Linked DNA regions of Homo sapiens. The protein of the gene in region 1 interacts with the protein of each later gene in a biochemical or structural test. Each region holds a gene or a part of one and is shown in the gene's direction. Other genes may lie near its edges.

Evidence for each region.
Region 2: the proteins of HNF4A (region 1) and DDX3X form a complex in vitro, tested with the Homo sapiens proteins (one study listed by BioGRID).
Region 3: the proteins of HNF4A (region 1) and PPARGC1B form a complex in vitro, tested with the Homo sapiens proteins (one study listed by BioGRID).
Region 4: the proteins of HNF4A (region 1) and TADA2A form a complex in vitro, tested with the Homo sapiens proteins (one study listed by BioGRID).
Region 5: the proteins of HNF4A (region 1) and ARNT form a complex in vitro, tested with the Homo sapiens proteins (one study listed by BioGRID).

The regions. Positions count from the first base shown.
Region 1 is NC_000020.11:44,398,841-44,405,632, forward strand, and holds part of HNF4A (hepatocyte nuclear factor 4-alpha), read left to right. Parts: intron 1-1,039; exon of another isoform or gene 1,040-2,532; coding exon of another isoform or gene 2,533-2,647; intron 2,648-3,713; coding exon of another isoform or gene 3,714-3,804; intron 3,805-6,792. UniProt on the Homo sapiens protein: Transcriptional regulator which controls the expression of hepatic genes during the transition of endodermal cells to hepatic progenitor cells, facilitating the recruitment of RNA pol II to the promoters of target genes. Activates the transcription of CYP2C38.
Region 2 is NC_000023.11:41,336,428-41,341,114, forward strand, and holds part of DDX3X (ATP-dependent RNA helicase DDX3X), read left to right. Parts: intron 1-980; coding exon 981-1,038; intron 1,039-1,263; exon of another isoform or gene 1,264-2,608; coding exon 2,609-2,656; intron 2,657-4,687. UniProt on the Homo sapiens protein: Multifunctional ATP-dependent RNA helicase. The ATPase activity can be stimulated by various ribo-and deoxynucleic acids indicative for a relaxed substrate specificity.
Region 3 is NC_000005.10:149,850,295-149,856,799, forward strand, and holds the end of PPARGC1B (peroxisome proliferator-activated receptor gamma coactivator 1-beta), read left to right. Parts: 3' UTR 1-4,728; downstream 4,729-6,505. UniProt on the Homo sapiens protein: Plays a role of stimulator of transcription factors and nuclear receptors activities. Activates transcriptional activity of estrogen receptor alpha, nuclear respiratory factor 1 (NRF1) and glucocorticoid receptor in the presence of glucocorticoids.
Region 4 is NC_000017.11:37,412,118-37,418,909, forward strand, and holds part of TADA2A (transcriptional adapter 2-alpha), read left to right. Parts: intron 1-6,792. UniProt on the Homo sapiens protein: Component of the ATAC complex, a complex with histone acetyltransferase activity on histones H3 and H4. Required for the function of some acidic activation domains, which activate transcription from a distant site. Binds double-stranded DNA.
Region 5 is NC_000001.11:150,864,639-150,871,430, reverse strand, and holds part of ARNT (aryl hydrocarbon receptor nuclear translocator), read left to right. Parts: intron 1-6,792. UniProt on the Homo sapiens protein: Required for activity of the AHR. Upon ligand binding, AHR translocates into the nucleus, where it heterodimerizes with ARNT and induces transcription by binding to xenobiotic response elements (XRE).

The DNA.
Region 1 (6,792 bases):
GGAAAAATGCATTGTTATTTTTGTTGCCAATGAAATTCTGACATGACATTGATCACATTCCCCGTTAAGCAATGTGGAACTGTGCCTCAGAGTGGAAGAGGCCATGTATTCCTGGATTGTGTGGGGAGTAGCTGTGCCTGTGGCCTGCCATAGGTGCCAGGCAGGTGGCAGAGGCCTGGGCTCAGCCCTTGGAGGCTCCTCCCGGAGCTGCCCTCCACATCTCTTCTGTGTTTACCCCTTGGTCGGATCTTCTGTTTCTTCCCACCTCTGCACTGCCCCCAAGGCCGGTGGAGCCAGGTCAGATACTCCTGAGGTAGGCATGGGAGGAACCCGCCGGTATTTGGTCTCTTTCAGCCCCTTATCAAGTCTCATAGTGTGGGTTGCAGGGGGCTGCCTCTTGCTCCCTCCCTCAGAGTCTTGTCCTGGCTAACAGAAAACTGAGCCAGGATCATCTTTCTATTTTACAGAGGGAGAAATTGAAGCCCTGAGAAGAGACGATGTAAATAAAGTTATCGGAATAGTGACTGAGCTAGTTCCTAACCCCAGGTCTCCTGACATCAAATCTAGCCTCTCTTGTCCTCCACAACAGTTGCTCCCTCTCCCCTTTCCCTACAGGCAATAGCACTCCCCAGTCATCTCAGCTTCAGAGGTCAGATCAAGTGGACAGAATAAAGCTAAGCAGGGCAGAGAAAGGGCTTCTAGCAGTGGAAAGAACATGAAGATGCCTCCTCATACCACTCGAACACACATGCCCTGACTCCCGATTTGCTCACTCATTAATCCACCCACACATTCACTCATTCACTCACTCATTAATTCACCCACCCATTCACTCATTAATTCACCCACCCATTTGCTCACTTACTCAGTAATTTACCCTCATTCGTTCATTCACTCACTCATTCATGCATTCACTCAACTCACTCATTAATTCTCCCTGTCTCTAATTCACTCACTCCTAATTCACCCACTCATCAATTCCCCCACACACTCACTCATTAATTGGTGCTCCCACTAATTCGCCCACTCTTGCTCACAGGTGTCACCGAGGCCCTCCAACCTGCCCTTCCAGCCAGCAGTGGAGGACAGGCTCCCAGGCCTCCCAAGTCTCAGGCTTTTCTTCCTCTGCCCTCACTCTCTGCCTTCTACATCAAGACTTTACTTCCCCAGATTGATTGGCAGCCCTTGAAAATGTCTGCACAGAAGGCAATGAGGGCTGGAGGGAGTGAGAAGAACAGAGTGCACCATGAGCTTCAGACAGCCAGGACCAGCTGTGTAATTTTCAGGGCCCCGTCCAAAACAAAAATGCACAATCCCTTGTTCAAAAGTCATGATGAATTTTAGGACAACCACAGCAGAGCACTGAACCAGGAACCAGGACTTTCTAAGGGTTGGGTTGCCTGTGACTGCACTGGCGATACCCCCACAAAGCCCACTCTGAAGGTAGGAGACGGGTGGAGAGAAACAGGGGGATGGCAAGGGGGATACGAAACAGGGAGAGGGAGGAGGGGGAAGAGGATGGACGTCTACCAGGCCCCACTTGGTGCTTGATTTATGCCATCTCATTTCCTTCTCAAACCACCCTTTGAAGTTGATTGTACATTTTACAGAAAAGGAAACTGAGGCTCGGAGAGGAGAATCATTTACCCAAGGTCCCAGTTAGTAGACGGTAGGTGCCTGAATGTAAATCCAGGTCTCTGCCTGCTCCGGGAGGGGGTGGGGGTGAGGGAAACAGGAGAATGTGATGGGAAAATCCGAGATGGAGCCAGCCTGGGCCAGAAACACTGGGAGCTGTGGGAGACGGAGAGGGGCAGGGTGGGATCACAGGGAGCAGGAGCGGGGAATTGGAGGTGAATCTGGCCCTCCCAAACTTCCAGTCCATTCTGCTCCCAGGGGAACCGGGAAACTGCGGGGGAACTGGAAGGGAGCTCCCAGAACAAGGATCCAGAAGATTGGCATCTGGGGCCTGGGATTTAGGTTTCTAAATCGTGGGCCATGGGGCAGCCTTATCTCTGCAAAAGCATTGAGGGTAGAAGTCAATGATTTGGGAAGTTATTGAATTAGGGGATCTCGGAGGTAGGCTGTCAGTGCCTGATAGTATCAGTTAGAATGCCTGACTTGGGGTGACAATGGCTTGGAGGGGTGGGTGAGTCAAGGGTCAAATGAGTGCCCGTGAGTCATGATGCCTGCCTTGTACAATTGATAACTGAACATCGGTGAGTTAGGGCCCCAGCAGTTGTAATTAGCACCCCGGGTGTCAGCCAGAAACCAACAAACAGCCAAATCCCTGCAGCCCCGCCCAGCCTATCCACCGGCGGGGGACCGATTAACCATTAACCCCCACCCCTCCCCGGCAGAGCCTCCACCCCTTCACAGAGGCTAGGCCAAGACTCCCAGCAGATCTTCCCAGAGGACGGTTTGAAAGGAAGGCAGAGAGGGCACTGGGAGGAGGCAGTGGGAGGGCGGAGGGCGGGGGCCTTCGGGGTGGGCGCCCAGGGTAGGGCAGGTGGCCGCGGCGTGGAGGCAGGGAGAATGCGACTCTCCAAAACCCTCGTCGACATGGACATGGCCGACTACAGTGCTGCACTGGACCCAGCCTACACCACCCTGGAATTTGAGAATGTGCAGGTGTTGACGATGGGCAATGGTAGGTGGGGGCAGATGTGCCCAGGTGTGCCAGTGGGGGCAGGTGTGCCTGGGTCCAGGAGCAGATCTTTGGCACTCAACTTTGGGGTGGGAGGAGAATGATACAAAATGGTAGGTTGGTCCTACAGGCCAGCACAGGTGTTGCCAAGTGAAGCCCATGTGCCCAGGCACAGTGATCACAGGCATTCTGGGTGAAGGGAGGCCTGCAAGGGCCAATTTCCAGCAAAAGTCGATCCCGGCTATTCCTCCCAGGCCCTTCCAGTCCTCACTGCCTCACAGTGGCTCTGCTTGGCGCTTGGCACAGTGACGTGATGGTGAGCTCCCCCTTGGTGCCCAGCTCCAGCGATTCAGCCCAGCACGGCCCCTTCGTGAACCCCTTGGGCCTAGGTTCAGAGAGACGGCAAGGGATGTTGTATCCCTGGAGATGGTGGTTGGAGACATAACCGCATTTCTCGGTGTCTTTGGGACTTTCCTAGGGAAATGAAATTGGCACTTAGGGAAAATGGAGCTCTCAGGGAAGTTTTGCTAACTACGAAGCCAACTCAGCACTGTGTGTGTTGTGTGTGCGTTCGTGTGTGATAGTGAGTTTCCATGTAGGTTGTATGGGTGGGGTGATGCCTTCAGGAACCCATTTGCATATGTGTGTTCATTTGTCTCTGTGTGTGAGTTCTGGGTCTATTTTCCTTTGTATTCATTGAGTGGGTCTGTGTTTGTGTCTTAGGAGTTGCCCGTGTTGATCTTGCTTATGTATGTAAGTGTGTATGTGTGTGTACTTGTGTCTGTGGATGTTTGTACATGTGTGCTGTGTGTGCGGGTCATAGAGCACATGCGTTTGTGCATGCGGACCTGTTGGAGTGCCCTGTTCTTCCTGCATCTTTATCCTGTATGGGCGTTTTGTCGTGTGCCCATATTTGTACCTGCTGTGTATATATGCAGTTCCCTGTGCTGCGGGCGGGGGTCAGCGGTCTCTGGTGTGCACGACTGCACAGACCCAAATGCAGGACTCTGTTGTTGCCACTCACCAAGTGAGATTCATATCAGCAACATGTCCGTTTGTCTCTGAGCAGATTTTGTTGCCGCTGCGTCTCGCCAGATTGAGGCATCCCCTCCGACATCACTGGAGCATATCTGGAGGGGTGGACAGTTCTCCACAGGGAGGTAGGGGAAAAGAGGAGGCCCGGAAACCCCTCCTGGAGGGAAGAGCCCCATCGGTCCCAGGCCAGCCTCAGAGGAGAGGGGGCAGGCAGCTGGCTGAGGTCAGCCTGCCACCCTGCTTCCTTCTGTGTCTTGGAGCCACTCAGCCAGTATGAGGCTGCAGCTCCAGCTGAGGTCTGGAATCTTGTGGTCAGCTCAGCTAGGGTGAGGAGGCAGCTGCTGGGCACTGCTTGTTGTCAGCTCAGCAGGTGCTCACCTGCCCCTGCCGTCCAGTCACGTGTGACCTTGGGCATGTCACCTCCCCTATCCTGGCTTCTGTATCTTCTACAAAACAGGCTTCATTCCCCCAGGCCTGCTGGCTGGACGGCTTTTAGGCCTGTCTGAGGACCACGCCAGGAGCGCAAGGCAAAAACACACCAGAGATAGCAAACAAGCTGCTGCTGCACTAGGTGGAGTGTTGTGTGGCCCCACGAGGACCACTGCCCTGCCCTGGGCTGCTCCCCGCCCCCATCACTTTTTCCAAGCCCAGGAACTGTGTGCTCCTGAGGCAGAGGCCAAGCCCCTGAACTGGGAGTCCCAAAGACAAGACCACCTCCAGCTCTGGAACCAGAAAGATCTGGGCTCAAATCCGGCATAGATCCTTCCAACCTGTGTGAATGTGGCAAGGCAATTTCCTCTCTGAGCCTCAGTTTCCTCACCTATAAAATGGGAATAAATAATAGTGTCTGTCTCCCAGGGCTGGCCAGAGGATAAATAAGATGAGGTGCCTGGGTGCTTAGCCCTGGTAAAGGGCCTGGCCCCACCATGGGTCATCTCAAGGGCTCTGAGCATCTGTAAGCAGGGTCCCCACATTCCTCACTGGAGTTTGAAGTGGTCTGAATTGGGGTTATGTGAAGTTGTCCTCTGAAGTGTTTTGAGTACATCCTGGGCTGGTGTCTGAAAGGCTCCAAGGATATTTCTCCCCCGTCCTCTCCCCACCCCAATGGAGCAGCAGCCCTGGGTGGCTCCTTGTTCATTAGAGGCCCAGCAGACACCTCAACATGTGTGGCACTGGCTGGAGTAGCCCAGCAAGCCTGGACCATAAACCCATGGCTCTGCTTCACGGGAAGCAGTGCGATGACACCAGGAAGCCACTTTTCCTCTCTAAGCCTCAGTGTCCTCATCTGTGGAATAGAGGTGCTCGGCTGACCTCAGAGGGGAGATGATAGAGCTGACAGCCCCCAGCCCATCCTGCCTCAGAGGTGGGAGCTACTTCCCCAGCCTCCTGCTGAATGGCCAGGAGCTGTGGGGGTCAGCTCTCCCCGGGGGTCGGGGGAGGAGAGGCCGAGGGAGAAAGGGCACCCACGTGGCTTAACAATTATCCCCATCTCCAGGAATAATTCACCAAGTGGAGGGGGCTGCACTCCTGGGGACACCTGGGAGTCTGCGATGGCAGAAATGAGATGCGGCAGTGTCTGCTTGTGCAAGGAGCCTGGAAGTCCTCTGCTCCGAGAGTTTTCCTATGTGGAAAAGTTTTTATTTCATGAACACTGATATAGTGCTTACTATGTGCCAAGCACTTCACATACACATATGAGAATTCACCGAATCCCCATAACGAACCTAGGGGAATATCACGTTCCCCATTTTACAAGTGAGGAAACAAAAGCATAGAGAAGTAAACGAACACAGTCAATGTCACACGGCTAAAAAGTGGGCAAGCTGGAATTGAACCCTGGGCAGAAGGACTTCAGAGGCTGTGCTGTTACCTACAGTGCATGGCCCTCTCTGGGTCTTAACTGGATGCCCCTGAGGAATCCAAGGTTGGATTCAGGATTTCTATGAATACACGTGTGTGTGTGTGTGTCTGTGTATGTGTGTATGTTTGTGCATGTGAGCATGTGTGTGTGGACTGTGTGTATGTGTATGTATATGTGTGGACTGTATGTGTGCACACATTTGTATATGTGTGTGTTGATGTGTTTGTATGTATGCATGTGTGTGGACTATGTGCAAGTGTGTGCAATGTATGTGGACTGTGTGCATGTGTGGACTGTGTGTATGTGTGTGCATGTGTGTGGAGCGTGTGTGTGCTTATGTGTGGACTCTGTGTTCATGTGTGTGTACTGTATGTGTACACATGTGTGTATATATGTGTGTGTGTGCGTGTGTCTGTGTGGTGTGTGGACTGTGTGGTGTGTGTGAACTGTGGTGTGTGTGTGCGTGACTGTGTGGTGTGTGTGCGCGTGTGTGTGACTGCTTGGTGTGTGTGAACTGTGGTGTGTGTGGTGTGTGTGTGCTTGTGTGTGGTGTGTGTGCGTGTGTGGGAACTGTGTGGTGTGTGTGGACTGTGGTGTGTAAGGTGTGTGTGTGCTTGTGTGTGGTGTGTGCGTGTGTGTGGACTGTGTGGTGCGTGTGTGTGCTTGTGTGTGGACTGTGTGGTGCGTGTGTGTGGACTGTGTGGTGCGTGTGTGTGCTTGTGCGTAGCGTGTGTGCGTGTGTGTGGACTGTGTGGCACACACGCTTGCATTTTCCCGGGGGCTGACCCATTGCATTTGTCATCTTCTTCAAAGGGGTCTATCTTTGCTGAAAGATTTGCTGACAAATAAAGGGGGTTCAGCTGCTGCTATTTTTTTAAATTTGGAAACAAATTTTTTAAATTTTTTAAATTTTTTAAATTTGGAAACAGACCAGTCAAACTGCTGCCTTTTATGGTTAGAGAAAATGAGGCCCAGAAGAAATTGAAGCAGGGAAAGCGAAGTTGCCCAAGTTTACAGGCGAGTTAGTGGCAGCATCAGCAGTAGTGCCCAGGACTCCTGGCACCCAGCCCAAGATCCTCTTTCCACCTGCCTCTACGGCCCCCCTCACATTTGTGTAGATGCAGTAGCTTTTGCCTGTGGGATGGGAGGGATGGGAGATGTGTCCAGACCCTCCTAGGAGGCCACATGAGTGTGACTGTTCTCGGCCCAAGTCTTTCTCGTTCCTCAGAGAATTTGCGGGGCCCCTGGGCAC
Region 2 (4,687 bases), on another chromosome or scaffold:
GTTGTGCCATTTATTCAAAGTCATCTTTGAACTTATGTTAAAATGGGGTAAAAACAGGTAACTACTTCAGGCCGGGCTCATGCTTGTAATCCCAGTGCTTTGGGAGGCCAAGGCAGGTGGTTCACCTGACCTGAGGTCAGGAGACCAGCCTGGGCAACATGGCGAAACCCCATCTCTACTAAAAGTACAAAAAGTAGCCTAGCGTGGTGGCGCACCCCTGTAATCCCAGCTACTCGGGGAGGTGGAGGTTGCAGTGAGCCGAGATCACATGACTGAATTCCAGCCTGGATGACAGAGGGAGACTCTGTCTCAAAAAAAATAAAAATAAAAACAAACGAAACAGTCAAACTACTTAAGAGTTGTGCTTAACATAGTGTTCTGTAAGTGGTAGGTATATTGCTATTTTTTTGTTGTTCTTAAGAGTACTACCCGACTAAAAATACTTGGGCAATATTTAGGGATGAAGTATCTAACTAAAAGAACGGCCACTTCGAAATTTGTCCTGACATTTTTCAGGTGTGCATTTTAGGTTTAAAATATCAAGTATTACGGAAAGTTGGCATTGGAAACTTTCATAACCGGCACTAAAACGAATCCTTTATCTATTTGACATTGAGGAATAATTTTGAGATTCAGTGTAAGCTTTAGTTTGGTGATTAGGGAGCCTGTGCTATGGAACATGTTAGTGAAAATTTATTTTGAATGCATGAATTAAATTTGGACAGTTTCTACTGAACAGCACAAGCATCTTGGTGTGCCGCCTTCTGTAGTATATACAATAGTAATATTGCATTTGCTTAGAGCATTGCAGACTTGAAAACATTCTTAGTCACATTCTCATTAAGGGTTGGTATTAGCCCTGTGAGGTGGACTGGGCAACTACTTGAATGCAGTACTAGCAAATGCTAGAGGGCAGGACTAGTTTTCTCTTAATGTAGTATTTGAGCACATGGGGTGCTAACCATCTCACTCTCTTCTAGTTTGCTGGCCTAGACCTGAACTCTTCAGATAATCAGAGTGGAGGAAGTACAGCCAGCAGTAAGTACAACATCTTGTGGGTTTATTGAATATTAGAGCTTAACATCTTAAGATTTCATTGGGCTTATGTAAAATTTAAGAAATTTGCCTTTCAATTTTTTACTGCTTAAAGAATTATGTAGTCTTTGTGTTATAGAATTATGTAGTACTTAGTGATCAATCTAAAGCATCGTTGCCTTTTTTTTTTTTTTTTGGTTGAGATGGAGCTTTGCTCTTGTTGCCCAGGTTGGAGTGCAATGGTGTGATCTCGGCTCACCGCAGTCTCTGCCTCCGGGTTCAAGCGATTCTCCTGCCTCAGCCTCCCGAATAGCTGTGCCTTTCTGATAATAAAACATCAATGACTAGCTGGCTCTCTTGAGTAAAAGCAGCTAATCATTGGAAAGAACCTTATTATATCAAATTATCTCTAGAAGAGTTTTTGTCCATTATAAATCCTGAGCCCAGTTTAGAGGTGATGGGAATGTGTCCCTGTTAACTGACTATATTTATTAAATTGAATTAAGGGAATATGCATTTCATTGGTTATAGCTACTCCTTTCTCCTGAAGAACAGAAGACTATACTGAATTTTGGATTGGTGGTTAGGTTAGGTTTTCAAATGTGTCATTTCTTTTAAAAAGGCATTAGAAAAGTTGCTTTTTTTCTTCTAAGGGGGGTTATTTAGAGACTTGTTAGAGGTTAGTGTTAAGATAGGGGATCTTGGTGGTTTATTATAAGGGCAATAGACCCTTATTTTTAGCTCAGATCTCTTCCTACTTATTAAAACAAAAGTGAGTATGGGCTATGATGTGTCCTCATTTTTAGGCAAGAACAGCTTCACTGGGAACAAAACTTGGTGTTTGCTTTAACTTTCACCTTATTTGTCATGCTAAGAATCTTTTAGGAACTGATTGTCCTAGTAGAGATTTTTAAAAATATTTAATTCAGTCTAGAAGTGAAAAAGAAAAATGACACGTTTACTAGTTATAAAGCAAATTTATTTGGCTTTATGTTGTTTTTTTTGCTTATCCATATTCTAGGCTGTACTCCTGCTCGCATACAGAGCAACTGTCAACTTTCCTTAAACTCAGCAAGCCCCAAATTAAAACCTGCAATTCCTTGAAATTAACTCCCCTTTGCAGCTTTTCCTTGTTTATTTATTGTATGTTTTGCAACTTACTGGCATAGAAACAAAAGATTGTGAGATATGTTACATGAGTAATCTTAAATTGTTACAGTAATACTTAATGCTTTTGTTGACAGTTTTGATGACAGTTCTCTTAAATCTAGCAGGCCTTTAAAAAAATCACATTAAATGACCACTGGTGGCTAAATGTGCTCAATTTGTGGATTTCAACTATTAGGTTCCAAATCAGCTTTTTTTTATCAAACTCCTTTCAGAGTTCTCCTTATGAAGCAGTAACCCATTTAAAATTAGATTCTTATTTTTCCCCCCTCTCAGTGTCCAGGTAAGTAATCAGATTGGAAGGCTGGAGATTTTAATTTCCCAGAACCATTTTTTAGTAACAGAAATTTAAATGGGAAGGTTTTTTGGCATTTAATTAATTTTATATATATATATATTTTTTTAGAAGGGCGCTATATTCCTCCTCATTTAAGGAACCGAGAAGCTACTAAAGGTAGGTCCTCACAAGTAACTTCGTAGGTCTATTTTTTGCCTCCTTTAGAAGTTAGTAAAGCCTAAGGAAAACCAGGCATTTGGGGGAGGTCTAAACATGGTGTTGTTTTTCTATGCTTCTGTCAGCCTTGGTTCAAATACTAGAGCTTAATAATTTTGGAAGAACTCATCTAATGTTACGCAGTGGGAAATTCGGCATTCCTATGTCAAACTGTTCTGACGCCAAGGGCATGGTTTTGTACAGTTTCACTAGTGTTGTGCTGAATCTGTTTGTAATCATTCACAGCATGGTTTTAGTTTGGAAGAGGTGGGTGCCCTACTGTGTAAACCAAGCTGTATAATGATAACAACCTGGTTATTTCTGTCTTGGCAAAGTTGCTAGAAATGAAGATGGGCTTATTGTAGAACAGTTAACAAGTTACAGCGTTGGAAGTGATTCTCTGGTTTCATCTCCTTGCCTTGCTGCTTTTGAAAGGTTTTGTCCAAAATGTATTACAATATCTGGTGTCTTTTCCCATTGTAATTGTAACGTAGTGATAGATGACAGCTAGTATATGTTTCATATTATGAGACAGCTGTTCGGGTGCTTTATATTCTGTAAAATAGACCATCCAAAATTTGGAGGAAAAGGGAAAGTCAGGAAAACCAAAGATTAGGAGGGAAGATACTGTATAAAGAAGGCAGATAGGAAGAGTGGAGAGTCCACAGGGGAGCACATGGTTTGCTGCTGTTCCTCCATCTCCATATGTAGTCTGTATTACCTTCACTGTCCTGGCAATGCATGGATATAAAATCTGTATTATTTCTACCAGAAGATCACTTTGGCTTTTTTTTTTTTTTTTTTTTTTTGAGACGGAGCCTTGCTCTGCTGCGGAGGCTGGAGTGCAGTAGCGCGGGCTCACTGCAACCTCCGCCTCCTGGGTTCAAGTGATTCTCCTGCCTCAGCCTCCCAAGTAGCTGGGATCACAGGCATGTGCCACCATGCCCGGCTAATTTTTGTATATTTAGTAGAGACGGGGTTTTGCCTTGTTGCCTAGGCTGGTCTCGAACTCCTGACCTCAAGTGATCCACCCGCCTCAGCCTCCCAAAGTGCTGGGATTACAGGCGTGAGCCACCATGCCTGGCTGGCATTATATTCTTTTTAGGGGAGGTTACTTTGGAATTTGTCTTTATCATCATGGATGTTCTCAATATTCCTAGTATACTAGCTAGAATTGACCCTCGTGTATATGGCAGTATCATAGAGGTTTTAGAGCTGGTAGAGATCTGGCAATCTAACTTAACTCTTTCTTGCTAGCAAAGGCTGTTGGTCACCTGACTGGCCTAACGGTAGGAGGTAGAAGGCAGAAGGAAAGTAACTGAATTGAGAAGCTGTTTCTGTTTAATAAGGTGTTGCTGAAGCTAGTTAAACCCTCTACCTGTCTTTAAACCCTCTACCTGTCTTTGGGTTAATTTACATGTTTGTCATCCCCTTACCTGGATATTTATAGCTGTACCCAGGAACCTTGTCTATACTGAGAATATATAGTGATGAGGGTTTTTCTTTTTCCCAGGTATTCCTGATTGTCATCAAGCTTATAGTAGATGAACCACTAAAATAATACTACAATTTGACATTAGTGTTCTTGTACTTTATACTATTGAAACTGAAAAATACTGTATTAAACCAAGTAATCTGACAGTCTATGAATGTTCTAAATGAATACCACCTCCAAGAAACATGGAAACAATGGTAACTGTTTTTCCTAGTAAACTCATTCACACCTATAAAATGAATGGAAATTAAATTGTTATGGTCACACAACGTCATAATGCGTTACAGGCAAAGCTGTTGACCACTTAGAGGTAGTATTCATTGAGAAACATTCTTAGACTGTCAGATTGCTTGATTTAGTGTAAAGTAATTTTTTTTTTTTTGAGACAAGGGTGTTTCACTCTTGTTTCCCGTGCTGGAGTGCAGTGGCGCAATCTTGGCTCACTGCAACCTCAGCCTCCCGGGTTCAAGTGATTCTCCTGCCTCAGCCTCCTGAGT
Region 3 (6,505 bases), on another chromosome or scaffold:
TCCCTGCTTTGGGGTCAGCTAAAGCTGTCCTTTCATGTCAGATTAACCTAGGACACTTGTAGTTAGCTTAGACGTTGGCCCTTGAGCAGAGACCTGAGCGTGGCATTGGGACATGACATACCTAAAGTCAGGGCTAGGGGACGCTGCCTGCCAAGGGCATCGAGTAGTCTCTACTTGCTATCCCGTACATAAAATGCTACAAGTTCTAAAATTTACCGACCCTGCAGACAACCTCTATCCCGAAGGACTCATTCGGTGCTGTGTATTATTTAGGGCAACTCCAAGGTCTATTCAGAAAAACGAGTGAACCTTGGTCTCTTTCCCACCAAATTGAGGAGTAACCCAGAGGGAGCAGCTGCCATTGGCAACCATCTCGTTGTAGCTCTGTCCTAGTGTTTGCTCTTGATGATGTTTACATGTGATCGCCATAAAGCTTGCTGTAGACTGTGTCGATAGCCGCCCGCACAGGGCAGGTCGTACTGTCCGTTTCTGTGCCGTGCTGGTGTTTTCCAAAAATGTCTGATCCAACCACTAAGTGGAATTCTTCCATCTCCTTCCTCAGTCTGTACAAGGCTGAATCAGAATCCCCATTCTCGGGGGCTCTGGTTACCGAAGGAAAATGCATCAAAGAGTTAAAGAATATGAGTGGATGGAGTGCAGCTAAGGCCCCCACCCCCTGCTCCGTCACAACTTGCCCCCTCAACCAAAAAGCTGCTTTGAGTCAAAAAGCACCCATAAGATACCTGCATCTGCCTTGAAATCTTGCAGCATGGAGTGTCATATGTACTCAGGAGAGAGGCAGGGCTTTGCGGGCAGGAGAAGGAAGGGAGGAATGCTCTGAGCTGCAAAGACCCAGTACTCAAGTTCTGACGTGGGAGGAGATGCAGTGAGACGTCTCTTGTTGCCTAAAGCCTGTTCCTGTTGGTTTTCTTAGAGTGATTTCTCCTAGACATGTGCAGTAGGCCCACTGGGGCTGCTGTGCAGTGGTGAGTAAAAGGGCAGGGAAGGCATGGACAGCCTGGTCCTTCTGCATGGACAGCTCAGTCCATGGCCCATCCCAGGTATAGAGTTCAGTTAATCCCATTTGAGCCTGCAGCTTAAGAGATGGCTCATCCTAACTGTGAAGCAAAATCAGCCCCAGAGGATGTATTGATCTGACTCACTGATGTCAAAATTGCAGTATTTTTTTAGCATTTGAGATTTAGCAGCTGCCTTCAGTTTGGGGTTACCCACATCCCAGCATCAGATATGATTAAGGAAAGAAATTGGATGTACAACAGCAAAGAAAGTGAATGTCATGGTTTCCCTGGCCAAAGAAGAGGGACCCTGTCATCCTTACCAATGGGGAAGAAGAAAACTAGTGCATGTGCAATATGTCAAAGTTAGTCCCCTAGTCCCTGAGGGGTTTTTACACACAGATGGGCTCCAGGTCTGCTCGTCAAGTTTGGAGGTACCGGGTAAATGGAGGGGAGCTGCAGAGTTGGAAACCCACATGCATGGATGTGTCCTTGGCCCAGAACCACCATGGGATGGGGGAGGCCCTGAGCCGGCTACAAGACACCCAGGAAGTAGGCAAAGGCTGACTTTGCATTAAACAATAAAAGCACTTTGAGAAAACCCCAACACTTCAGCCTGGGTCCGTGTTTCTACACTGGAAAATACGAGTCTCCTTTGGCTGTGTGAAGTGATCTTCTAGAGACTGGGACAGGGAGTTTGGGAATGGGGCTGCTGTCAGGTAGGAGAGAGCAGAGATGCCTTTGGAGATGTCAGCAGCAGGAGAGCCAGTGCTGGGGCCAACCCTTTGCTGGCCTTTTGTTGGAAGCCCTTGAAACAGGGAGCCATGGGTTTAGATCTTGGTACCTACCTTTACAGAAAGATGAAAACAGCCCAGCTGAGTGAAATGAGTTTGTAGAGTAAGTCACTTAACTGTAAGCCATCTCAGAATCAGAAACCCTAATGTTTCTTACTTGCTATGTGACCTTGGGCCCCTGTTTCCTCATCTACCAAATGAGAATGTTGAATATGAGCATTAAAGTCCCTTTCACCTCTGAGAGGCTCAGATCCCCAACCAGGAGCATTGGGAATCCATCACTCCTCCTTGAAACTGATTCCATTCTCTGACTTGACCCAGCTCCTGTTCAGGGTGAGGGTTCTCTGCAAGAACCAACCAGCAGTAGGTTCAATCCCACTGTGTCCTGGCTGAGTTGCCTTATCCAAGAAGACCAGCTCCCCGGGACAGATCTAAGCCATAGTTTCTAGTGGGGACAGTAAGGAATTAAACCCCCAACTTGGCTAGGTAACGATGTCAAATCTCACATTAACCTTGTCTTTGTCCCCACTGGATAGCTGTTAATCCGAATGTTGTGACCATTTGGCTGTTTCTCTCTTGTTCTCAGACAATACTAGCAATACACTTTTTTTTTTTTTTTTTAAAGAAAAACAGCTTAGGAGCTTTTCACACATTTCTTTCAAATGATTGTAAAACATATGGGGCAACAGGAGGCATTGATCGCGCTGCATATGTTTAGGGCAGCTTTTGTTTTTTGTTTCTTTAATGGTATAGCAGCAGTGACTGAGCCTTCGTGATTCCTGGGGACAGCTTTTCAGATACTCTGTTTCATCAGTATGCTTTGCACATCCGGAAGGAGTACAAAAATCCAACTGCCCAAATTTGGGGCTTGGAAAATAGGTTTTATAGGTGGTCGGTCCCTGGGCTGTGCAACAACTCCTCAAAGAGGGGTTTATATAACTAGAACCCCCCTGGGCTGTATTTTTGGTCAAAGGAGTCTCCAAGGCGGCTTACAAAAGCTTCCTTTTTCACTTGACCACCCTTGCTCATTGGTTACTTGTGAAGGGAATTGGTCAGTTTCCACCTCAGCACTTTGCCTTATCAACATGCGGTCGCCATCTAGTGGCCAAAGGTTGTCTCCACCAGCTACCCAGATGGAAGGCAAATAAATCCTTTCGGCCACCCTGCTGTCCATCGTGAACTTTGGGAATGAAATATAATGGCCTGAACGAACTGCCTTTGTGTTCAGAGATCAGTGCAACACTAGGGTCAGAAGACTCCAGAAGCAGCCACTTAGTAGACTCTCACGCAGAACTGAGAAATGCACTAGCTGTCCTGTGGGCAGAAGAGACAGGAGTGGACCAGGAGAGGTCCAGGTGCCCGGGAAGGGTTTACTGTAACTGCAATACTGGCAGCCCAGCTGCTGACCTTGTTAAGTAAACCTTTGCTGGGTGGTCCGAATTCTGCCCTCAAGGCAAGATAAGAAGTTGGGTGTAAGGATTTTGTGGGGGGCCTGGCCATGATCTTTGATATGATCCCCGAATAGCCAAATAGTTTTTTTTGTTCAATTTTTTGTTTCTGTATTTTGTATTTTTAAAATCTTGTCAAATGTTTTTGTGTTAGGAATAAAAAGTCATAAACTATTCCCAACTTTGTTTCTTGAGGGATGTTCTGATTCCAATGGAAACAGGTGGGAAATCTCAAGGGGAGCGTGGACAAGGTGGTATGTGCAGCAGGGGAATAGACTGCTTGGATTTCCAAATGGTTTCTGGGGAAGATGACCATCCAGAAGTCCAGCTTAGTGCAGTCTGCTCTGGAATTCACACCCACCCCCTCGCCTCCTTGTGCCATGTTGTTAGCATTGGCTTGGAGCATCTGCTTCTTCCAGAGGCAGCTGCTAATGTTGAAACCAACACGAGCCCTCTCCCCAACCCCAGGTTTCTAAAGAAGGTGTCTGTAGCCAGCCTTAATCAACTGGGCAAGGTGGTCCCTATGGTCCTTTCCAGCATTTCCAAATCTTGGACTCAAATTATTTTCTCTTGGTGTGACCACACAGCCTAGAGAATTCTGAGCAATAGGAGCCAGGGCTTTCCCTGACTCTGCGACAGGGTCAAACCAAGGAATGGCTAAACCTGTGAGGTTTTGTCATCCCCGGGGGTACTACTGTAGGGGGCATTATTTATTAGGAAGCTTAACAAGGTAACTACGGCCTGAGTGCGTGAGTGTAAGGCTGTGTTTGTGGTGGGGGTGTGTGTGTGTGTATCTGTGCACACATACACACGTCTGTGCCTGTGTGTGTGTGTTTGTGTGTGTGTGTGTGTGTGGAATTACATTGATGCATTTATTGAGAAAGGTGCAAGAATTTCACCTACACAGAGGGACACATCTGCTTTGTTATTTATAATAGAAAGCTAAATTTTAATTTTTTAAAGGACACTGCTAATGATTGAGAATCAAGTTTTTAGTTTTGCTATTTTTTTTAATTGGTAGAGGATTTTTATATATTTTTTCCATTTTGTTGGGTTGTGTCCTTATTTATATAAATACTTTATCCGTAAGAGGCAAGGAGGAAACCTTCTTTGCTTTTACATATTGTGGTTGTCATCGTCCCTATTTTATTTCTGGTGTGATTTCTCTGTCTTACCTTCTAAATGAGAAAATGTTTTCTTGTATTTGTACATTGTCAGATTCTATAGTTTCCTAGATAATTTAACCAAATTGCTCTATGTATTATTATTCTGTGAGTATAAAGTTCTATTTTAATGTCTGTAAATACTTCAGAACTGGCTTCTTTTCTCAAACTCCCACTGTGGGGTTATTGTTTACATCACAGAAACTGTAGAATCTCTATGCTCATGTACTGTAAATAGTGAAGTGATCTGCTTATAAATAAACTTAACAAATACACTATGGAGATTAAAAACAAAATACCACCCACAGCTTTGCCCATGTGTGTTTTTCCTTGTTGGTCCTGGGAGCTCATTGAGGGACACTCTGACCACTAAATGGGGAAGAGATTTCAGTTTTCAGCGTCACCTTCTCAGATAAGACCCCGGATGATGTCTGCTCCTCACCTCACCACACTTCTCCCTCCTTCAGAGCACTTTTCACAGTTCATAATATCCATTCGTGCCAGGCACAGGGGCTGAGGTGGGGGATCACTTGAGCCCAGGAGTTCAAGGCCAGCCTGGGCAACATAGTGAGACCCCCATCTCTGAAAAAGTAAAGTAAATAAAATATAATAAATAAATAAAATAACCATTCAGACTCATCTCACATAACAGCTGTTCCATGAACGACTTTTTGCCCTGACTTTTATAAAGCTATACCACTTTCTGAACAAAGACTTCCTTGTTTTGGTATATCAACTTTCACATAAGCACATTGAATAAATGCACTGTAGGAGGTATTTTGGCATTGTGGTTCCAGGCAAAACACTCATCAATTTGTAATTACAAAATGGTTTCTGGTCAGAGGATCTCATAGAGAGCAGGCCTGCATTGTGTGCGGTAATTGAATGAGCTCAGAACATTTTCCTTTGTGTACTTCCAGCAAGTAGGGTGAGGAAGTGGCATCTTCCAAGACTCTCAGTTGCGTGCCTGTGTGTTATTTCCTCACGTCTCAAAGGGGTTAGCCTGTATTTTGCCCTAAAGCTGTTTTTTGTGCTTTAACTTTATTTTTAAATGCCAGACACCCATAAGCCCCAAAGGGTTGAAACACTGGCAAAGAGAATTATATATAAACAAGAACAGGCTGGGCGCGGTGGCTCGCATCTGTAATCCCAGCACTTTGGGAGGCTGAGGCGGGCGGATCACCTGAGGTTAGGAGTTCGAGACTAGCCTGGCCAACGTGGTGAAACCCCATCTCTACTAACAATACAAAAATTAGCCCGGCGTGGTGAGGGGCGCCTGTAATCCCAGCTACTCGGGAGGCTGAGGCAGGAGAATCGCTTGAACCCGGGAGGCGGAGGTTGCAGTGAGCCAAGGTCGTGGCAACAGAGCCTGGGCAACAGAGCAAGACTCCATCTCAAAATAAATAAATAAAATAAGAACAGGTGCAATGAATGATTACATTTTATGTTATGTGCAAACTATTTTCAGGTTGCTATTTATTACATAAACTCATACAAACTCATACATATATTCTCCTTGTTCAGGTGATTTATTTTCCCCATCTGTAAAGATTGTTTGGATTTCTTTGATTGCAAGGGAACACATCATGATTTTTTCCCATTAAAATTAATAGGAACGTTTCCACTTAGGGGCAGAGTTCTCTGGTGTGATGAGAATATGTGTGTGATTGAGGGCTCAGTACCTGTTGCCCATCTGTTGTAAGCTTCAGGAGAACAGGCCTGCCTTTCCGTTCACTGCAGGGCACTGGCCCCATCAGTCAGGAATTCCTGAGTAGATCCTACCCGTAGTGCAAGGAATAGGATGGCAGATGCAGAGCCTCAAGACCTGCCTTTGGGACCCATCTCTGCCACTTCTGTATTGTGTGAATTGGGCAGACCACCTCCTTGGTCCCTGGTTTTCCCAAATATGAAACAATTTGCTTAGCTGAACTCAAAGGTCCTTTATGTTCTTATGTTCTTTAAAAACAACAATAAAACCTGATTTGCAGAAGCAGTATGGTACAAGGAAAATGCTTACAAGCTGGGGTTCTGGGGTTCTGGTGTCAAGCTGCTTGGCTTTTTTTTTTTTTTTTTGTGATGGAGTC
Region 4 (6,792 bases), on another chromosome or scaffold:
GGAGAATGGCATGAACCCGGGAGGCGGAGCTTGCAGTGAGCTGAGATTGTGCCACTGCACTCCAGCTTGGGCGACAGAGTGAGACTCTGTCTCAAAAAAAGAAAAAAAAAAAAAAAAGAAAATGAGGCTGAGATGGACCAGGCATATTCTGATTAACCTGTAGTTAAACCTAGAAAAGCCATGGGATTTCTGTTTAGACCAATAACATGTTTCAGGCACCTTGATAAGAAATGTGTCAGTGGTAAGATAAAGGAAAGATCATCCCACCTCCCCCTTGATGTGGAACTTGTTTCTAAGAGTAAACCACGGTAGAATAATTTAGAGAATTATGGGGTATGTATGAAGTAAATTCAAGTAGCCATAACTATGGATAAAAAAATTATACTGGCCAGGTGCCATGGCTCACGCCTGTAATCCCAGCACTTTGGGAGGTCGAGGTGGGTGGATCATGAGGTCAGGAGTTTGAGACCAGCCTGGCCAACAAGGCAAAACCCCGTCTCTACTAAAAATACAAAAATTAGCTGGGGGTAATGGCGAGTAACTATAATCCCAGCTACACGGGAGCTGAGGCAGGAGAATCGCTTGAACCTGGGAGGCAGAGGCTACAGTAAACCAAGATCATGCCACTGCACTCCAGCCTGGGTGACAAGAGCAAGAATCTGTCTCAAAAAAAAAAAAATTATACTGCTCTTTTTCCCTGATTCTGAATATATGAGATTTGGCAGAAATAGAAATTCCATTGTTAGATGTTTAGTAGTATCCTAATGAGAAGAATCAGAAAAGTACTTTTTGGGTGTTGTTTCCTCTTCAACAATTCGTGTTTTTTTTGAGATGGAGTCTTGCTGCATTACCCAGGCTGGAGTGCAGTGGCATGATCTCGGCTTACTGCAACCTCCACCTCCCGGGTTCAAGCAATTCTCCGTCTCAGCCTCCCGAGTAGCTGGGAGTATAGGCGTCTGCCACCACGCCCGGCTAATTTTTGTATTTTTAGTAGATACAGGGTTTTACCTTGTTGGTCAGGCTGGTCTTGAACTCCTGACCTCAGGTGATCCACCAGCCTTGGCCTCCCAAAGTGCTGGGATTACAAGCGTGAGCCACCGCTCCCGGCCTGACAGAACAATTTCTTAAAGGAGCTCTAATTTACTTTTTGATCACACTCCTAATATAAATTTAGGAGAGAATGGAGTCTTCAGACACATCTAGTTCAACTCTTTCATTTTACATGTAGAGAAATCTAAGTGGACTGCTCTAATGCTGGGAGTGTCCAAAATAAACTTCTTTTTGGAAATAATTTCAAACTTAAGTTGCAAGAATAAGAATACAAACAATACCCACATACCTTTTGTTAACCTTTTACTCCATCTGCTTTGTCATTTGCATGTGCACTGTCTGTCTCTGTGTGTGTGTATATATATGTTTTTTATTTTTTAATTTTTTTTATTTTTAAGAGATGGGGTCTCACTGTGTCACCCAGGCTGGACTGCAGTGACACAATCATAGCCCACTGGAGCCTTGAATTCCTAGGCTCAAGCGATGCCCCCACCTTGGCCTCCCAGTGTGTTGGTATTATAGGCATAAGCCACCATGCCTGGCCCAATCTTTACTATTAAGGTTGCAAAAAGATGATTCCCCCCCCACCCCCTGCCAAATCTAGTGCTCTCTCCACATTTACTAGTTAGCATTTTTAGTTTTTATTTTAAGTTCAGGGGTACATGTGCAGGGTTGTTATATAGGTAAACTTCTTGTCACAGGGGTTTTGTGTACAAATTATTTTGTCACCAAGATAATAAGCATAGCACTCGAGAGGTAGTTTTTGGGTCCTCTCCCTCCTCCCACTGTTCACCCTCAAGAAGGCCCTGGTTTCTGTTCCCCTCTTTGTGTCCATGTGTTCTTGTTTTTTTAGCTCATACTTGTAGGTGAGATCAGAGGGTATTTGGTTTTCTCTTCCTGTGTTAGTTTGCTTAGGATAATGACCTCCAGCTCCATCCATGTTGCTGCAAAGGATGTGATCTCATTACTTTTTTATGGCTGCATAGTATTCCATGGTATATATGTACCGCATTTTCTTTATCTGTTCACTTTTTTACTTATTTTTTATTATGGACACAGGAATTCCTATTTTTTCAAGGATTTACGATTTATTAGCATACATAACTAGCTAGGTTCATGGATTATTCCAAATTTGGCCACTGGGAGTCCCTTCAAATGGGCTCCTACATCCTTATAGCGTACTCTCATCATTTTTTTTTTCTTTTTAGCATCTCCGTCCTTTTTGGCATAACTAAATACTCCAAGTGCATCCTGTACTCCCCCCGCCCTGGAATCAGCCACTTCTCTGAGGAGTCCTGGTACTTTTACAAGGGAGTCATATCAGAGACCGAGATCTTTTCATCTACTAGAATATTTTTGCATCTTGGCCCTTTTGGCTGACAGAACTAGGAAATATATGCATGTTATGTGCTATATACATATATGCCAGTATACATACACACATGCACATTTACGTACACATATACTTCTTTTGAGGAAATCATGAGTTCACATTGATACCTCTAATTCATCATCATGGGCTTTTTTCTTGTCTGCATTAATTCCTCATTCACATGTCTCTACTCAGTGAGAACCCTGGCTCCCAACATCAATATAATTCCACTATCCCCTGCCCTCAACCCCTTGTACTTACCAACTTCATTGTTTTCTGGTTTAATCTGTCCCTTAATCCTTTTTGCAAAGAAAAGAGGACTGTTTTTTACTCTAATTTTTTTCTTTTTCTTTTCTCTTTTTTTTTTTTTGAGACAGAGCTTCGCTCTTGTCACTCAGGCTAGAGTGCAGTGCCACGATCTCAGCTTACTGCAGTCTCCACCTCCTGGATTCAGGTGATTGTCCTGCCTCAGCCTCCTGAGTAGCTGGAATTACAGGTGTCTGCCACCACACCTGGCTAATTTTTGTATACGGGATTTCACCATGTTGGCCAGGCTGGTCTTGAACTCCTGATCTCAGGTGATCCACCCGCCTTGGCCTCCCAAAGTACTGGGATTACAGGCACAAGCCACCGTGCCTGGCCTCTAATTTCTTATAGGAAAGATAGCATACTATATATATGTGTTCTTTTGTACTTTTAAAAAAATTCTTCAATCAGCACCAGGATTGTACTTTTTTCCCCTCACTTAATAGTATCTCCTGGAAATACTGTATTAGTTGGTAGAGGTTGTCCTCATTCTGTTTTTTATAGTTGCATAATACTTCATTGTGTGGATATGTTATTATTCAAATAATTGCTTATACTTGGACATCTAAGTAGTATTTTGCAATTACATCTAATATTATATATAACCTTGGATGTGTGTATTTTTGTATTATTGGAAATGTATATTCATGGTAAAAAATTCCTGGAAGTGAGATTGCTGGGTCAAAAGATAATGCCCCTCTATATGAGTTGTACTATTTTGTATTCCCACCAGTGATACGTAAGAGTGCCCCGGCTGGGCGCGGTGGCTCAGGCATGTAATCCCAGAACTTTGGGAGGCCGAGGTGGGTGGATCATGAGGTCAGGTGTTCGAGACCAGCCTGACCACCATGGTGAAGCCTCTACTAAAGATACAAAAAATTAGCTGGGCTTGGTGGTACGTGCCTGTAATCCCAGCTACTCAGGAGGCTGAGGCAGGAGAATCGCTTGAACCTGGGATGCAGAGGTTGCAGTGAGCCAAGATTGTGCCACTGCACTCCAGCCTGGGCGACAAGAGTGAAACTCCTTCTCAAAAAAAAAAAAAAAAAAGTGTCTATATTCCCACAGCCTGACTAATTATATTGTCAGGCATTGAAACTTTTGCCAATCTGATGGGTGAGAAACTATATGTCAGGGTAGTTTTAAATTTTATCTTGCTTATGAGTGAAGCTGAACATTTTTTCATATGTTTAAGGCCATTTTATGTCTCTTTTTTTTCCCCAAATTGTCTTTGTGTCTTTCGCAGCAGGATCTTTGGTCTTTTATTCTCCCTCTCAATTTTTTTTTTTTTTTTAAACGGAGTTTCACTCTTGTCACCCAGGCTGGAGTGCAATGGTGCGATCTCGGCTCACCGTAACCTCTGTCTCCCGGGTTCAAGCGATTCTCCTGCCTCAGCCTCCCAAGTAGCTGGGATTACAGGCACATGCTGCCATGCCCAGCTAATTTTTGTATTTTTAGTAGAGATGGGCTTTCCTTCGTGTTGGCCAGGCTGGTCTCGAACTCCCAACCTCAGGTGATCTGCCTGCCTCGGCCTCCCTCTCAATTTTTTAAAGTTGTTTGCATACTAGGGATTTCAGTGCTTTTTTTCTGATATGTTTACAAATATTTTCTTAAAGTATACTTGCTTTTTTACTTTCCTTATGGTGTTTTTGCCAAAAAAAGTTTTTTGTTTTCTTTTTATTAATGTAGTCAAGTTTATTAACCCTTTATTGAATTTGAATGATGGTTAAAAAGCCTCACTCGGCCACACATGGTGGCTCACGCCTGTAATCCCAGCACTTTGGGAGGCCGAGGCAGGCAGATCACGAGGTCAAGAGATTGAGACCATCATGGCCAACATGGTGAAACGCCATCTCTACTGAAAATACAAAAATTAGCTGGGCATGGTGGCACACACCTATAGTCCCAACTACTTGAGAGGCTGAGGCAGGAGAATCACTTGAACCTGGGAGGCAGAAGTTGCAGTGAGCCAAGATCGCACCACTACACTCCAGCCTTCCAGCCTGCCAGCCTGGCAACAGAACGAGAGTCCGCCTCAAAAAAAAAAAAGCCTCTCTCTTGTTTCCTGTTATCTCAGTGAAAAATTAGATAAAAAGTCTTTCTCTTAGATTTTAAAAAATTTTGAAATACCTTTTGAAGGACAGTTGGGCTCTGTGTATCAAAAACCTAAAAATGCTCAATAACTGTACACTCAACAATTTTAGTTCTAGGAAAATATATATCCTGAGGAACAGATGTGAAATGTACATACAAAAGACCGGGCACAATGGCTCACGACTGTAATCCCAGCACTCTGGGAGGCTGAGGCAGACGGATCACCTGAGGTCAGGAGTTCGAGACCAGCCTGGCCAACATGGTGAAACCCCGCCTCTACTGAAAATACAAAAATTAGCTGGGTGTGTTGGTGGGCGTAATTCCAGCTACTTGGGAGGCTGAGGCAGGAGAGTCGCTTGAACCCGGGAGGCAGAGGTTGCAGTGAGCTGAGATCGCGCCACTGCACTACAGCCTGGGCAACAGAGCAAGACTCCGTCTCAAAAAAAAAAAATTAGCTGGGCATGGTGGCATGCACCTGTAGTCCCAGATACTAGGGAGGCTGAGGTGGGAGGATCACTGAGTCTGGGAGGGAGAGTTTGCAATCAGCCAAGTTTACTATTTGGAAATAAAATACATAAGACAATATGTCTACATATGTGATTTCTTTTTTTTTCTTGAGACATAGTCTCGCTCTGTTGCCCATGCTAGAGTGCAGTGGCATGATCTCAGCTCACTGCCATCTCTGCCTCCTAGGTTCAAGTGATTCTCATGCCACAGCCTCCCGAGTAGCTAGGACTACAGGTGTGCGTCACCAGGCCCAGACAATTTTTGTATTTTTATTGGAGGTGGGGTTTCGCCATCTTGACCAGGCTGGTCTTGAACTTCTGGCCTCAAGTGGTCCACCTGTCTTGGCCTCCCAAAGTGCTGGGATTACAGGCATGAGCCACCATGCCTGGCATACATAATTTCAAAAATTAAAAATAATAATGCTCTAACTATAATAAAAGAGATAAATACAAGAGAAGTAATCTATGGTAAAACAATGCAATTTATAATAAAGCAATATGTATTTCAATATGTTTAGACATAATTACAATAGAAGACATGATTTAAGTACTAGATACTTGAACCCATATGTTGAATCACTGTGCATATACAAATGCAGAATGATTCAAGCGTGTCATGTTGGTGACTAAGAAACACCACAAGCTAGAATAACTAAACGTTCTGAACAAAACAAAATACATTCTCCTCTAGACTTATATACAATTGCCTGTCTGGAAATTTCAGTGCATATTAAAATTCTCAAAAATACTTTGCTTTATATATAACATGGAATTAGCTTCTAGGTCATATGAGATTTTTCATTCACTTGAATGTCTGGTGGGACATTTGAAAGTTGCACAGGACACACAAAAAAGTCAATTTTTATTAGAATGTATTGAGCATTGTAGGATACCTAGAATCCCTGTTTTAGGGGCCTGCAGAATGCCAGTGGGGCACTGGTCATTGTGGCAACAAAAAGGTACCTCCTCAGATTTCCAAATGGCTCCCTAGGGGGGAGTTGAGTACAATTAGGTTATATAATATAATTAATACAATGGAATGTTATTTATCCATTAGAAAGAACAAGGAAGGTCAATGTGTATTGTCATGAAAACATGTCCGCAATTTGTTGTCAAGTGAAAAAACATGTATGATATTCCACTTTTTCTTTTTCTTTTTTTTTTTTGAGACGGAGTTTCGCTGTTGTCACCCAGGCTGGAGTGCAGTGGCGTGATCTCGGCTCACTGCAACCTCCCCCTCCTGCGTTCAAGTGATTCTCCTGCCTCAGCCTCCTGAGTAGCTGGGATTAGGCGCCCACCACCACATCCAGCTAATTTTTTATTTTTAGTAGAGGTGGGGTTTCACCATGTTGGCCAGTCTGGTCTTAAACCCCTAACCTCTAGTGAGCCACCCGGCTCAGCCTCCCAAAGTGCTGGGATTACAGGTATGAGCCACCGTGCCTGGCTATTTTTTCTTTTTATTATTTT
Region 5 (6,792 bases), on another chromosome or scaffold:
TACTCGGGAGGCTGAGGCGGGAGAATCGCTTGAACCTGGAAGGTGGTGGTTGCAGTGAGCTGAGATCGTACCACTGCACTCTAGCCTGGGCGACAGAGTGAGACTCCGTCTAAAAAAAAAAAAAAAAAAAAAAAAACCACGACTGCCTAATATGCCATAATGACTTTAGTAAGTAGACATCAGTGAATCTTCAGGTTGGAAATATGACAACACCTATCATTTTACACTTAAGGAGACAAACCCAGGGAAAGGAGTGGATAATTAAGTTCCTTCTATATGCCAGGCTGCACTTTCCTATTTTGTTGCTAATCTTTATGTCTAGTCTGTAGCAACTGTCTCCAACTTTTCACATAAACTCTTCAAATTTATGTCACTTTTCATAATTTCGTCAATGTATTTTCTTGTTTTAAAGTTTTTATTATTTTAGATAGTGACCGGGTCTCACTATATTGCCCCGGCTGGTCTCAAACTCCTGGGCTCAAGCAATCCTCCTGCCTCGGCCTCCCAGAGTGCCGGGGTTACAGGTGTGAGCCACCCTCTGAGGCCCATTTTATATTTTCCCTCCACGTTTTCATTGTAGTTGAATGGACAAGTAAGTTTATGGATTCAACAGTATACTTAGGGCTGGACATGGTGGCTCATACCTGTAATCCTAGCACTTTGGGAGGCTGATGTAGGTGGATTGCTTGAGCCCAAAAGTTTGAGACCAGCCTGGGCAACGTGGTGAAACCCCATCTGTACAAAAAAATACAAAAAATTAGCAGGGTGTGGTAGCATTCCCTGTAGTCCCAGCTACGTGGGAGACTGAGATGCGAGGATGACCTGAGCCTGGGAGGTTGAGGCTGCAGTGAGCCATGATTGTGCCACTGCATTCCTGTCTGGGTGACTAGGAGACAGAGTGAGACCCTGTCTCAAAAAACACAACAAAACCAGCATACTTAGGATATAAGTTCCATGAGAGCAGAACTTTTGCTTTCCTTGTTTACCAGAGCATTGCAGTGCTTACAGTGGGTGCCTAGTATGTTGGATTAGAGTTCAATGTATGTTTGTGGAATAAAAATGAATGTAAAACCCACTGTTAATATGAAATACCTTTGAAGGGATAAAACTAATTAAGCCATTGACATCATGAATTTGTACTAACTATAATAATATCTAATATTTATTAGTAATACTTACCAGCTGTTCTCATTTAATTTTTATAACAATCGTATTAGGTAAGTATTATTATTCTTGTTTTACAGATGAGGAAACTAAGGCACAGAGAGTGAATAAGTAACTTGTCTGAAGTCACATAGCTACTAGAAGTTAGAGACAGAATTTTATTGTTGGCAGTCCATCTACACAGTCATCATTCTTAATCTCCAAGTTATGATTTTTTCCATTGTGACTTAGAGTCACCTTCCTACTGAAATATAGTACAATGGATATCTTTTGAGAAGGAGGTAGGTGGAGTATTGTCTTTTTTGTAGATGAAAAGGGTGAAATACCACATTAGGCAGCCTGGGGGCAAGGCATTGCTTGGTTGGAGAACCAAGTGCAAGGTGCTAAAAAAAGGAGCTAGAACAGTAGTTTCCAGGCTGAGTGTGGTGGCTCATACCTGTAATCTCAGCACTTTGAGAGGCCAGGGTGAGAGGATTGTTTAAGCCCAGGAGTTGGAGACCAGCCTGAGCAATATAGGGAGACCTTGTCTCCACAAAAATATATATAAAAAAATTAGCTAGATGTGGTGGTGGATGCCTATAGTCCCAACTACTTGGGAGGCTGAGGTGGTGGGAGGATCTCTGAGCTTGCTAGGTCAGGGCTGCAGTGAGCCATGATCATGCCACTGGACTCTAATCTGGTTGACAGAGTGAGCCCCTGTCTCTAGGAAAAAAAAAAAAAAAGGAGTAGTTTCCTAAAATCTTTTCTGTAACATTCTATAATTCTTCATTTTGTTTTGTTTTGTTTTTTTGAGACTGAGTGTCCTTCTGTCACCCAGGCTGGGGTGCAGTGGCACGATCTCAGCTCACTGCAAGCTCCGCCTCCCAGGTTCACGCCATTCTCCTGCCTCATCCTCGCGAGTAGCTGGGACTACAGGCATCCACCACCATGCCCTGCTAATTTTTTGTGTTTTTAGTGGAGATGGGGTTTCACTGTGTTAGCCAGGATGGCCTCGATCTCCTGACCTTGTGATCCGCCCACCTCAGCCTCCCAAAGTGCTGGGATTATAGGCTTGAGCTAGCGCGCCCAGCCTAACATTCTATATTTCTTTCTCCTAGTTCTATGTTTCAATTCTTTAAATACTTTTAAGGGTTTTTTTGAGACAAGGTCCTGTTGTGTCAGCCAGGCTGGAGTGCAGTAGCGTGACCATAGCTTCCTGCAACACCTCCAATTCCTAGGCTCAAGCGATTCTCACTCCTCAGTTTCCTGAATAGTTGGGACCATAGGTATGCACCATCATGCCCAGCTAATTTTTTAATTTTGTAGAGACAGGATCTCGCTATGTTGCCCAGGCTGGTCCTTTTTTTTTTAAATTTTATTATTATTTTTTGAGACGGAGTCTTGCTTTGTCACCCAGGCTGGAGTGCAGTGGCGTGATCTCGGCTCACTGCAACCTCTGCCTCCCGGGTTTAAGCGATTCTCCTGCCTCAGCCTCCTGTAGCTGGGACTACAGGCACGTGCCACCGCGCCTGGCTAATTTTTGTGTTTTTAGTAGAGACGGGGTTTCACCATGTTGGCCAGGATGGTCTCGATCTCCTGACCTCGTGATCTGCCCACCTCGGCCTCCCAAAGTGCTGGGATTACAGGCGTGAGCCACCGCGCCCGGCCTGCCCAGGCTGGTCTTGAACTACTGTCCTCGAGTGATCCTCCTGCTGTTGGCCTCCCAGATTGCTGAGATTACAGGCATGAATCATGCACTGCAGCTTTTAGGATTGTTATTAGAATCCTCTACAAGTTCTTGATACTCCATAATTGAGCCTCTCCTAGAAACTTGGTTTCAGAGACACTGTTGCTAGGTCTTTATCACTGATTGTTCCTTCTTTGTCCTTTTTGCTTATCTTTCTGCTTGTTTCTTTCTCTTGTTCAGTATGCTTCTACTTTTCTCTTCTCACCCTTGAGGCTAGGACTCTTCTTTGAGACAGGGTCTTGACTCTTTTTTGAGACAGGGTCTTGCTATGTTGCCCACGTTGGTCTTGGATTCCTGAGCTCAAATGATCCTCCCACCTCTGCTTCCTGAGTAGCTGGGATTACAAGTGTACACCACAGTGCCCGGCTTGGGGCTAGAACTAAATAGTAAACCAAGCAGTTTCCTTCATTTCTTCCCATTTGCCCACCTACCTGCCTTTCTAGCTGCTTGCCTTCCTACTTCAATTTGACATTCACTTGGTACCTACCATAGTCCTCTTCCCTTTGTATTAGTCCATTCTCACACTGCTATAAATAACTACCTGAGACTGGGTAATTTATGAAGAAAAGAGGTTTAATTGACTCATAGTTCCGCAGGCTGTATGGGAGGCAGGGCTGGGGAGGCCTCAGGAAACTTGGAATCATGGCGGAAGGCGAAGGGGAAGCAAGCATGTCTTCACATGGCTGGCAGGATAGAGGGAGAGAAGGGGAAGGTGCTACACACTTTCAAACAACCAGATCTCTTGAGAACTCTATCATGAGAGAGCATTAGGGGAATGGTGCTAAACCTTTGGAAACCACCCCTATGATCCAATAACCTCCCACCAGACTGCACCTTCAACACTGGGGATTACAATTTGACATGATATTTGGGTGGAGACACACAGAGCCAAACCATATCACCCTTTATTTATCTTTTATGTATAAAAGACTCCAAAAATTTCATTCCTGGCTTCTCACATAAACTACTTTCCTATATTTTTATCTATTTAAAAGATATCTCTCTCTTTTTCTTTTAAAGTTGAGACAGGGTTTTACTATGTTGCCCAGGCTGGTCTTGAAATCCTGGGCTCAAGCATTCCTCCCACTTCAGCAACCTGAGTAGCTGGACTACAGGTGTGTGCCATTGTGCCTGGCTGCATCTCTGTTTGAATAGTTTTTTTTTTTTTTAATTTATAGAAATGAGGTCTCACTGTATTGCCCAGACTGGTCTTGAACTGCTGAGCTCAAGTAGTCCCCCCATCTTGGTCTCCCTAGTAGCTGGGATTATAGGTGTATGACACGATGCCCAGCTCTATTTGAGTAATCTGTTTTTTTTTGTTGTTGTTGTTTTTTTTAAAGACAGAGTCTTTCTGTGTTGCCCAGGCTGGAGTGCAGTGGTGCGATCTTGGCTCACCGCAGCCTCCGCCTCCTAGGTTCAAATGATTTTTGTGCCTCAGCCTCTCGAGTAGCTGGGACTACAGTGTGCCACCACGCCTGGCTAATTTTTTGTATCTTTAGTAGAGATGGGGTTTCACCATGTTGGCCAGGCTGGTCTTGAACTCCCGTCCTCAAGTGATCCACCTGCCTTGGCCTCCCACAGTGCTGGGATTACAAGTGTGAGCCATTGCGCCCAGCCTCTATTTGAATAATCTTTAACATCCTATATATGTATGTACTCACCAGTATTTCCTTTAAATCTGCTGTTCTTCCTACCTTTCTGTATCTTTCATCACTATCACAATTCAGTTTTTCATTTCCCCAGGCTAAGGAACTATAAGTGTTTGGATTTTATTTTTTATGTGTTTATCTGGGTTATTAACTCTTCTCAGGTCTTTTGCCAAATATACGTGTGTGTGTGTGTATATGTATGTGTGTATACATACATATATAAAAGTTATTTAAATCAAAACTATACATCCATATATTAATATTTAAAGACTTAGATAGTTTTATAAAATGTTTGTTACAAAAAAATTATAAGGGAGTCCTCTGCTCCCTTTCTCTCATTTCCTTCTCTCCAGTGGCATCATTTTTATTTCTTTTAACAGAATTCTTTGTTTCTGTTTAAATAAAGTGTCCCAGTGAAAGACATTAGTTTCCAGATCAAAGGGGCTGTGCACACATCAAGGCCCATTATGCTGAAATTTCAGCATCAGATAGAGAATATCCTATAAGCTTCAGAGAGAATAAGATTATTCACATTCAAAAGATTCAGGTATCAGATTGGTCTTTTTTCTCAGTAGTCATGCTGGAAAGTAGAAGACCTTGGAACAGGCTGACTGACCTTGGTGGCTCACGCCTGTAATCCCAGCATTTTGGGAGGCTGAGGCAGGTGGATCACCTGAGGTCAGGAGTTTGGGACCAGCCTGGCCAACATGGTGAAACCCCGTCTCTACTAAAAATACAAAGATTAGTTGGACGTGGTGGTGTGTGCCTGTAGTACCAGCTACTTGGGAGGCTGAGGCAGGAGAATTGCTTGAACCTGGGAAGCAGAGGTTGCAGTGAGCCGAGATCACGCCACTGCACACCAGCCTGGGCAAAAGAGCGAAGACTCTGTCTCAAAAAAAAAAAAAAAAACTTTGGAGTAATGCCTTCAAAATTCTGAGGGAAAATAAATTCTAATTTAGAATTCCATAGCTAGGCAAACTATCAATTAGTGAAATAGAAGAAATATTTTCATACATCCAAGGCATTTCTTACACCCTTTCAGGAATCCACTAGAAGATAGGCTCTACCAGTAGGAGATAGTAAACCAAGAAAGTGGAGATACGAAATATAGGAAATAGGCAGTATAACACAGAAGAAAAATGAAGCATGTAGTATGCATACATTGGTGTTAGTTTTCCTGTTTTCAGTACGGGTCCCTCACTTTCACCTTTACGTCGTGTTCACTAGACTGTAAGACCTTTGATTTATACTCTCCAGAGAGTAAATCTGTCTTTTGACAGAATGGAGAGGGGTAGTTGCCTTGGTTAGAAGGAATAGAGAAAAGGATCTAGGAATCCATCTCTGTAGTAAACAGATGCTGAACTAATTCTCCTTATTTTCACTTCATTCACCCTACCCTGCATACCCAGAGTTACCTGGACTCACCAGCTTCTGAGACTTTGGGGAATTCCATAGCGTAAATTGAGTTGGTTTTCTGCTTTTTCCCTTGTCAGTTTAGGATTTAGTTCTTGTCGATCTCCCAAGGCAATAGTCCATTTTATCTCTAGTTTCAAAAAAATTATTGCTCTTCTTCTCTTATTCTTTCCATCCTTGTGGTTTTATGTCTTGTGTAAAAATTTTTGCTTTTAAAAATTTTTTTCCTGTGTGTGAGTGAAGAGAGAAGAGAGTAGAAATAGATAGATACATTTAATTCACTATCCTTACTCAGAAGTTGCATAGTTTAAAATTTTAGAAGTAACTACCTTTTCGTTGTGCCATCCTCATTTAGGCCTTTATCACCTTGTTTTTTTTATTAATCTTGTCTTCCTACTTCTATTACTTCAAACTTTAAATCTGTCAGATTAATTTTAATTTATATTTTCATCTTGTTACTCAGACTTAAAGTTATATGTTTGTCTTTGTTGAATCTGATCCAGGTGTTTCATCGTGGCATTCAAAGCTTTCTCTTGGTTAGCACTTGACATCTTACCTTTTATAGGTCTTTTTCTTTCTTTTTTTTTTTTTTTTTGATTTAAAGAAAACCATTTTGTTTTCTTCAGGGGCAATTTTTTTTTTACATTCCACCACATATTATTTATATGTTTATCATATTTCTTTTATTTATTTATTTATTTATTTATTTATTTTTTATTATACTTTAAGTTTTAGGGTACATGTGCACATTGTGCAGGTTAGTTACATATGTATACATGTGCCATGCTGGTGCGCTGCACCCACTAACTGGTCATCTAGCATTAGGTATATCTCCCAATG